2 linked regions of the Homo sapiens genome follow. The protein of the gene in region 1 interacts with the protein of each later gene in a biochemical or structural test. Each region holds a gene or a part of one and is shown on either strand. Other genes may lie near its edges.

The links.
Region 2: the proteins of H2AC8 (region 1) and NAP1L4 form a complex in vitro, tested with the Homo sapiens proteins (one study listed by BioGRID).

Annotation. Positions count from the first base shown.
Region 1 is NC_000006.12:26,212,533-26,218,091, forward strand, and holds H2AC8 (histone H2A type 1-B/E), read left to right. Parts: upstream 1-4,388; 5' UTR 4,389-4,442; coding exon 4,443-4,835; 3' UTR 4,836-4,905; downstream 4,906-5,559. Other genes in the region: H2BC8 (histone H2B type 1-C/E/F/G/I), read right to left, coding at 3,731-4,111. UniProt on the Homo sapiens protein: Core component of nucleosome. Nucleosomes wrap and compact DNA into chromatin, limiting DNA accessibility to the cellular machineries which require DNA as a template.
Region 2 is NC_000011.10:2,943,631-2,947,329, reverse strand, and holds the end of NAP1L4 (nucleosome assembly protein 1-like 4), read left to right. Parts: intron 1-1,683; coding exon of another isoform or gene 1,684-1,722; 3' UTR 1,723-2,893; downstream 2,894-3,699. UniProt on the Homo sapiens protein: Acts as a histone chaperone in nucleosome assembly.

The sequences.
Region 1 (5,559 bases):
TTGGAGAGGAAAGGGCCTAGGGAGAGTTTCCTATTTCTTTTTTTTTTTTTTTTTTTTTTTTTTTTTGAGACGGAGTCTCACTCTGTCGCCCAGGCTGGAGTGCAGTGGCACGATCTCGGCTCACTGCAAGCTCCGCCTCCCGGGTTCACGCCATTCTCCTGCCTCAGCCTCCCGAGTAGCTGGGACTACAGGCGCCCGCTACAACGCCCGGCTAATTTTTTGTATTTTTAGTAGAGACGGGGTTTCACCGTGTTAGCCAGGATGGTCTCGATCTCCTGACCTCGTGATCCGCCCGCCTCGGCCTCCCAAAGTGCTGGGATTACAGGCGTGAGCCACCGCGCCCGGCCGAGTTTCCTATTTCTTAACCACACCATTGATAGTTTGGGATAGAGACAAATAGAGAAAGTTATCTTTAGAGGAGCTGTCTGTTGCACCAAAAAAAAAAATGTAACAGCACTGTTAACATCTTGGCATTGACCCTTATAGTCACTCTTTTTTCCTAAAACTATATGTGTGTGTGTGTGTGTGTGTGTGTGTGTGTGTGTGACATCATGTAAATAAGAATACACTACTTGGCAACTTGGATTTACCCCATACAATGCCATGAGCATATTTTATGTCGTTTTTTTTAAAGCATTCTTTTTAACAGCTGCATAATATTCCATTAGGGATAAAACCTAGTTTTAGGCAAAGTCCAACTCTTCAACATTAGTATTTCCAGTTGTTAGCCACAGTAAACAAAAATATGGACAATATTAACAAAATTAGAAGTTAAAATCAATGAGTTTGTATATTTTTAAATATTTGCAGAAAAGAAAAGGGAGTAGTCTGGAATGGGGACTAGATTTCAAACTTGGATGAGTAAGTGAAGCCAGGTAGAGTATCATAAGGTCTGTCTTGGTTGTGCTGAGTTTCAGATGCCTGTGAAATACTTATTTCATGTACTATTTAGAAGCCTAATCACCATAATTTTTGATATTGACTGAATTGCCTGACTGAAATCCAAGTCAGCCCACAATTCAAACATTGAAGTCCAATACCAACTACTTGAAAATGTGACTATTTGGAGATAAGGTCTTTAAAGGTGTAAAATGAGGTTTTAAGGGTAGGTCCTAATCTATTCTGACTGCTGTCCTTATAAGATGATATTAAAACACAACCCACACACACACAGGGAAGACCAGAGAGGGGAAAACCCAAGGAGAGTGGCCCCAGAAAAAATCAATCATGCTCACTGGTTTGATCTTGAACTTGTAGCCTTCAGAATTGTGACAAAATTAATTTTTTTAAGCCACACAGTCTTTGGTAGTTTGTTTTGGCAGCCCTAGCGAACACACTTCTCAAACATTTTCATTCTGGGAATACTTTTCTCCACACCTTTTCTATGTTATGCTAGCTTTTGTACTCCACAAAGACAAACACACAGAACACAGATGCACACCCACCCCTACTGTATGTTGTAGGGGAGGAAAGAGCGTTTCCTTTTACCCATCTTATGTTCATTGGCTGGGGCCCTGAAACAAAATACAGATTAACAACAGAAAAATATACACTTTATTTTTATTTTGATTTATTTATTTATTTTTGAGACGGAGTCTTGCTCTGTCGCCCATGCTGGAGTGCAGTTGCCCGATCTTGGCTCACGGCAAGCTCCACCTCCCGGCTTCATGGCATTCTCCTGCCGCAGTCTCCCGAGTAGCTGGGACTACAGGTGCCCGCCACCACACCCGGCTAATTTTTTTCAATTTTCAGTAGAGACGGGGTTTCACCGTGTTAGCCAGGATGGTCTCGATCTCCTGACCTCGTGATCCGCCCGCCTCGGCCTCCCAAAGTGCTGGGATTACAGGCGTGAGCCGGCGTGAGCCACCGCGCCCGGCCAAGAGAAAAACATTCACATTTAATATGAAGTTTTACATGACATAAGGAAATAAGGACCTGAAGAAGGGCTTAAACCTGAGTGTGTTTGCACTAGGTTTGATGAAGAGAGTCATGCAGAAATATAACAAGACAAAAATAATATGAGCTAAGGATAATAAACAAGGAGAAATCTAGCAAGGTTTATTTGTTCAGATTCCTCGCATACTCTGCAAGACTCCCAGGAGGGTCTTAAGACCTGCTTCAGAGGAAGGTCATACGAACATTCTTGTCTATGTTGTTCTACTAATGTCTTAGAATATTTACTATGTCAAGGCGCCATACTTTGGAGTACTATGTTGTCAGAAACCTGAGGTTGCTCATGGAGTACTATGGAGTAGTGACCTTTTTTTTTTTTTTGGTCCCATTTTAGAAATTTGATTAATGAGTATAAACTAATGGTTTCTATGTTTGAGACGGAGTTTCGTTCTTGTTGTCCAGGCTGGAATGAAATGGCGGGATCTTGGCTCACTGCAACCCCCGCCTCCCGGTTTCAAGCGTTTCTCCTGCCTCAGTCTCCGAAGTAGCTGGGGTAACATAGGCATGCGCCACCACGCCCGGCTAATTTTGTTATTTTTAGTAGATACGGGGTTTCACCATGTGGGTCAGGCTGTTTTTGAACTCCTGACCTCAAGTGATCCACCAGCCTCGCCTCCCAAAATGCTGGGATTACAGGCGAGAGCCACTGCGCCCAGCCAGCCAAAACTGTAATTTTTTTTTTTTTTTTTTTTTTTTTTTTTTTATGAGATGGAATCTAGCTCTTTCGCCCAGGATGGAGTGCAGTGGCGCGATCTCTGATCACTGCAACCTCCGCCTCCCGGGTTCAAGTGACTCTCCAGCCTCAGCTTCCAGAGTAGCTGAAACTACAGGTGAGTGCCACCACGCCCGGCTAATTTTGTTTGTATTTTTTTAGTAGAGACAGGGTTTCACAGTGTTAGCCAGGATGGTCTCGACCTCCTGACCTCGTGATCCGCCCGTCTCGGCCTCCCAAAGTGATGGGATTAGAGGCGTGAGCCACCGCGCACGGCGGAAAACGAGATTTTTTAGATCAACTTTACATTGCCAATGCCCATGGTATTCCCTCCACAACAAACTCCACAAGAGTGCTCAGAAAAGTCAAACTTGTTATCAGGTGATCTTTAGGGACCCAAAGACTACTCTTCCTACCCTTTCCAGTGTTGCCCAGGCTGGAATTGCACTAGCGTATTCACATGTTCCTGCAGTCTCTAGCCCGAGAGTTTAAGCTATCCTACCACCTCAGCCTACCGAGTAAATGATAGTACAGACGCAAGCCGTCACACCTGGTTAGCTTCATTTTTTTGCAGAGACGAGTTCTATGTTGCCCAGGCAAATCTGTTAACTCCTGAGCTGAAGAAAGCCTCATGCATCGACCTCCCAAAGTGCTAGGATTACAGGATCTTGCCAACACAGAACAGGAGTATCTCCTGATCAATTTTTTTTGAGACGAAGCCTCGCCTTTGTCGCCCAGGCTAGAATGCAAAAGCGCCATGTCTTTTCACTGCAACCTTTGCTTGCTGGGTTTAAGTGATTCTCCTGCGGCAGCCTCCCGAGTCTCTGGGATGACACGCGACTGCCCCACGCCCGGCTAATATTTGTATTTTTAGTAGAAACGAGATTTAACCACGTTAGCCAAACTGGTCTCGATCCGCACGCCTCGGCCTCCCAAAGTGCTGGGATTACAAAATCGGAAAAATTATTCCCTAGAAAACGGTGAAATTCAATATTAAAGCTCTTTATGTGAGACTTGAGTGGCTCTGAAAAGAGCCTTTGAGTTTTAAAGCACCTAAGCACACATTTACTTGGAGCTTGTATACTTGGTGACAGCCTTGGTACCTTCGGACACTGCGTGCTTGGCCAGCTCTCCGGGAAGCAGCAGACGCACGGCGGTCTGGATCTCCCTGGAGGTAATGGTCGAGCGCTTGTTGTAGTGGGCCAGACGGGAAGCCTCGCCTGCGATGCGTTCGAAGATGTCGTTAACGAAGGAATTCATGATGCCCATGGCCTTGGATGAGATGCCAGTATCGGGGTGAACCTGTTTTAGCACCTTGTACACATACACGGAGTAGCTCTCCTTACGACTGCGCTTGCGCTTCTTGCCATCCTTCTTCTGCGCCTTGGTCACAGCCTTCTTGGAACCCTTCTTCGGAGCAGGAGCTGACTTAGCTGGTTCAGGCATGCTGTCAGAAAACAATAACAGCAGTGAGAATGAACGCACTTAAATAAAAGCTCGTGTCTAGAGTCTCTCCTTTTATAGGCCTTTCATGCAAATAAAGAATTCAAAATATCCAGCTCTGATTGGGCAATGTGTTAGTGACGCATACATGTAAAATAGCCTTCACCTTATTTCCTTTCTAATTGGTTGGCTCGTCAAAGAACAATTTTAACCAATCAAATTGCGCCTTTCACAATTCTACCGATGACTATAACTAGCTTCTTATTCCTCCATCGAGCCCATTCTTTTTCTTTATTCAGTGGATTGTTAGTTCTTCTGCTGTTAGGAAGCCACTATGTCTGGACGTGGAAAGCAAGGCGGCAAAGCTCGGGCAAAAGCTAAAACGCGTTCTTCCAGGGCCGGTCTTCAGTTTCCAGTTGGCCGTGTGCACCGCCTCCTCCGCAAAGGCAACTACTCCGAACGAGTCGGGGCCGGCGCTCCAGTGTACCTGGCAGCGGTGCTGGAATATCTGACGGCCGAGATCTTAGAGCTAGCTGGCAACGCGGCTCGCGACAATAAGAAGACCCGCATCATCCCGCGCCACCTGCAGCTAGCCATCCGCAACGACGAGGAGCTAAATAAGCTTCTAGGTCGCGTGACCATCGCGCAGGGCGGTGTCCTGCCCAACATCCAGGCCGTATTGCTGCCTAAGAAGACGGAGAGCCACCATAAGGCCAAGGGCAAGTGAAATGATTACTAGTCAAATCCGTCAGTGATCCCGAGTCCCAGAAACCAAAGGCTCTTTTCAGAGCCACCCACCTTTTCTGTAAAGTGCTGGAATACACATACGATGCCTGAAATCTCAATGTTCACTGTCCTAATTTTTAACGAACGCTTCTGACGTTACTGGTCAGTTCTTTATTGAAATCCTTGCTCACATTTCATGCACTAATTTATCTTACTGGTGTTTCTTTGCAGTAAAAATGCGTTTATAAAGGTATACAAGAATAGAAACCGAGGTTGTGACACCAAGGTTTCACTGCGTTATTTTGTGTATAGGTCCATGCTGTGTATACAAATTTATCATTAATACACAGGCTGTTTATTCATGTGCACTTGTCAGAAAAGGGTGAAATATTAATACAGAAACGAGAGAACAAAGAAGGATAGCTGCCCATTAGCATTTCAGGGCGGGCTTTTTAAGTTTTAAAGATGACTGCATTCCGGCTGGGCTCAGTGGCTCATGCCTGTAATCCCAACACTTTGGGAGGCCAAGGAGGGCGGATCATAGGGTCAGGAGTTCGAAATCAGCCTGCCCAACATAATGAAAGCCCGTCTCTACTAAACAAATACAAAAAGTAGCCGGGCGTGGTGGTGTGCATCTGTAGTCCCAGCAACTTGGGAGGCTGAGGCAGGAGAATCGCTTGACTCCGGGAGGCAGAGGCTGCAGTGAGCCGAGATCACGCTATTGC
Region 2 (3,699 bases), on another chromosome or scaffold:
CTTCACCCAGGATATTGGTTTTATTTAGGACAGATGAATACTACATTCTCGTGGTTGAAAATACCTATTACATCATTTCTGCAACTTAGGATAATTTAGATTTATTTCTGGTTGAGCATTCCAAATCTGGAATCCTCCCGTGAGCATTTTCTTTGTCTTGGGTTCCAGATTTTGGAGTATCTCAGATTTGGGATTTGGGATGCTCAATCTGTGGTAGGATAAATTATAAAGTCCTGTGTATGACATGACATAGTATTTGCGTAATTTAAATGTACATAAAGATGGAGTCTGTCACCTTGTCACCAGCCCCAGTCTTCCCCGTCCCTGCACAGCTCCTTTACTGACATCCCATTTTCTAGGCGAGTCCCTTGGTGGAGGCACACTGCTTGTCCCACTCCTCCCCTCACTGCTCCTGCTCGGGGCGCCCTGCATCCCCCACACTCCTAAGGCCAGTGGCTCAGTGTTCTTGGCCACTACACTGGGCCACCTTCAGTCTACCCTTGAATGTCAGATTGACATGGCGAGGGTTTTTGGTCAGCCTCGTTTTGTCTTGGCCAGGCTCTTTGGGCAGCCTCTGGGGTGGCTGAGATTGGGAGCTTAGACACCAGGGTTCAAGGTTATTGATTTTGTTTTTTGCATATTTTACACATATTTTTTCGGCCATCCCTTAAATGTGATTTCCAAAAGAATGAACTGTAGCCTCAGCTTATACTGTGGAAGATATCATTTATGGTAACCCAGGGATCTTTTTGCCCCATACAGTACAAGTTCTTAGGTTCCATAGGCACGCTGGATTAAGGGCAATTTGTAATCTTAGCCAGAAATCATAGGTTACAGGTTCGTAAAGTTACTAGCGCAGAAGCATTAGCAAGATCGTGATGTATTTCTTAGGCTATTGTTGGCCTCCACACAAATTCATGGAGTTGCTGGATGTGGTTTAAAGGGTACAAGATCTCTGTGTTAGATAATATTGGAGTTAATCCATTCCTCTGGGAGGGGAATTTTGTGTCCCGGATGCCGTTACTGGAAGGATAGCATTGCCCCTTGGTGAGACTGTTAGGAGAGTGAAGGAGAGTGAGTGACAGATGGAGCTCTTGGGAGTGGCAGCTCATCATTTGTTGGTGCAGTACAGGCCACCAGAAGAGGATGGATCTGCCGGGGCGCTCCCTGGTAGTACAAAGAGCAGGAACCCGCTAGAGGAGAGATGTGCTTTCCATGAGCGCCAAGGGCCCAGCCTACCCCCAGACAGATGTGCCCTTGAGAAGTGGGGACTGTTGGCACCAAGAGGGGTTGCCTCCGCGGTGGCCTTCCTGGATGGAGCTGCCCGTGTTGAGCGCACTGTGCTCTGTGTGGGCAGGGGTTCCAGCTGCTTCCCAGCCCTTTCATGGGCAGGCCCCTGGAGCTCCACCACCCCAAGGAGCCCCAAAACCCTCCTGCTGAACATGCCATGAATTTGAATGCTTGAAGGCATAGCTTTAAAAACAAAAAAAAACCCTGCTTTGACTGCAGGGTGGTAGGGGGAGTTAGCTTTGTTTTTGTCACTATTTTTAAAAGTATATTTGCAGTAACCATTTTTTTCAATGAGAATGAACTCATTCAGTCTTGGCTTTCATTGTTGATTGGAGCTAATTGGTGAATGGAGCTGGCTTTGCTCTCTACAAGCCTTGTCTTTTTCATTGACAGAAGGAACCCAGCCAGCCGGCGGAATGCAAGCAGCAGTAGGAAGCGGAGGCGGGTGCCTGGCAGACCGGCTGTCGGGACTCCAGGCCTGTGGGCGGGGCCTCGGTCCTTGCCGCAGCACAATCCCGTGGACAGAGCTTACTCCATCTAACTCGTTTTCAAGTGCATGATTTTCACTTTCACTTTTCCTTTTTCCTTATTATTTTGCTTAACTTGTACAGTGGCAACTGAAATGCATTTCAGAAATAGGAGGTTTCGTCCAGCACCCTCTGCAGCCTTGGTGCCTGTAGCTCTGGACTTCCCTGGGCCTTTCCCTGTGGGAGGGCCCTGTAGACCACATCAGGGTGGGGTGGGGGTCACTTGGCAAAAAGGGCCGAGGTCTGGTGATGTGGTTCCCAGGATCTGGAACCTCTCCCACCCCTCCTGCAGTTGGACTGAATTCTTCCCTTTCATCCGAAGAAACCCACTTGCTGTTTCCAGCCGCTGAATCTGCTGAGTGTGCAGCCTGCATCACCTGCTGTATGCCGATCATCTCAGAAAGGGCTGTGTAGAGTAGGGCCCTGTTCTCCTTAGGATGTTGCTTCTTGATTTTTTTTTTTTTTTAGGGGTGGGTCAGGGTTGTGACACACCAGCCCAGGTGAGAGCTGCTGCGGGTCACCTCATATTTATTTATCCCTTCTTGCCTGTGAGGACTGCGGCTTTTCGCTGTGGCTCGTCCTTAACGTTTCTGAACCACCTTGGTGCCCTGAGCAGGAAGATGTGCCACTTCCTAGCAGGCGCAAGGCCTGTGCGGAAGAAACGCCGCTCCCTGCCACCAGGGCTGAAGATGCGAGCCCGTCCTCATGACGCAGGCGCCACCCTGCTGCCGGAGCCGGGCTTCGGCAGTCTTCTCCACTGAGGGACTGGGCTGGGAAGTCCTGCGTTTCAGTGGAGCGTATGAGCGTCAAGTCCTGCTTTCTCAGTAGCCCCATTGCGGGGCCCCACCATTCATCCTGTCTGAAGGTCCTGGGTTTGGTGTGACCGCTTGGCGGCTGGTGGGTGGGGTTTTCAAGTGGGTGACGGCGCTCTCCGGCAGCCGGGGATGGCCGTGTCCGCACTGACCAGGCCTGTGGAGAGTGCTCGGCCTAACCTTAGAACACATTTGTAACTGAATACAGTGTTTTCAATTTGTACAGAATAGTTAGAATATTCTATTAAAGTGGTGAAACATTGAGTCAGCACTGTGCCATGTGGGTCTTTGCAGGGGAATGTGGTGGGGAAGGCTCAGATGTGCTGCACACCTGTTGGGCTCTGTTGAGCCCTGGGTATTGGTGGCTCCAAGACCGGTTGTACAGTTTACTTCTGAGGCCTTGAAAGCTCAGTTTGAGGCAGAGGCTGCTGTAGCCCCCCCACTACACCTAAGTTGCTGCTGTATGCAGGCAGCTTCACTGCGGGCCCAGGGGAAGACTGTTCCTGCCCCCAGGAGGGGATCATTTCTCAGAGTTAGTGGGACTGTGCTTTGTAGATCCAGAAGGCTCCAAGAGGAGAACTTCCTGATAAAGCCCATGTTAGGTGTGTTTGCTCTCTGAAGCTTTTCCCCGTGTCTCTTCCATCCACAATGAGAGGAGGCACTCAACACCTGCTGCACAGGCACTTCCTGACCTGACCGTGGGAATCCCAGCCTTGGCAGCGCCGCCTGGTGAATGAAACGCTGTCATGAGAAGGCAGCCGTGGAGCTGGCTCATTGCTCCCCACGTGGCTGGCCCCGCCCTGCTGCCTCCAGCTCACCCGTGGGCTGCCTTCTCTCTGGGAGCAGCAGGAAGGGCAGGTGCAGGCTGGGAAGTGAATGCTTGCAGCATACCCCCAAGGGCCGGGGAGCCTGATGTCTGTGCTTCCTGCACCCGTTCCTCCGTCCCCATCCTGTGAAGTACCTGGGGGAGCTTGGTCTCAGGCTCCCCAGCCTCAGGGTGGCCCCATGGGTGAGCAGCACCCTGGCCTTACTTGGTCTGCCCAGGGTCAGACCCCATAATCCAAGGGGCA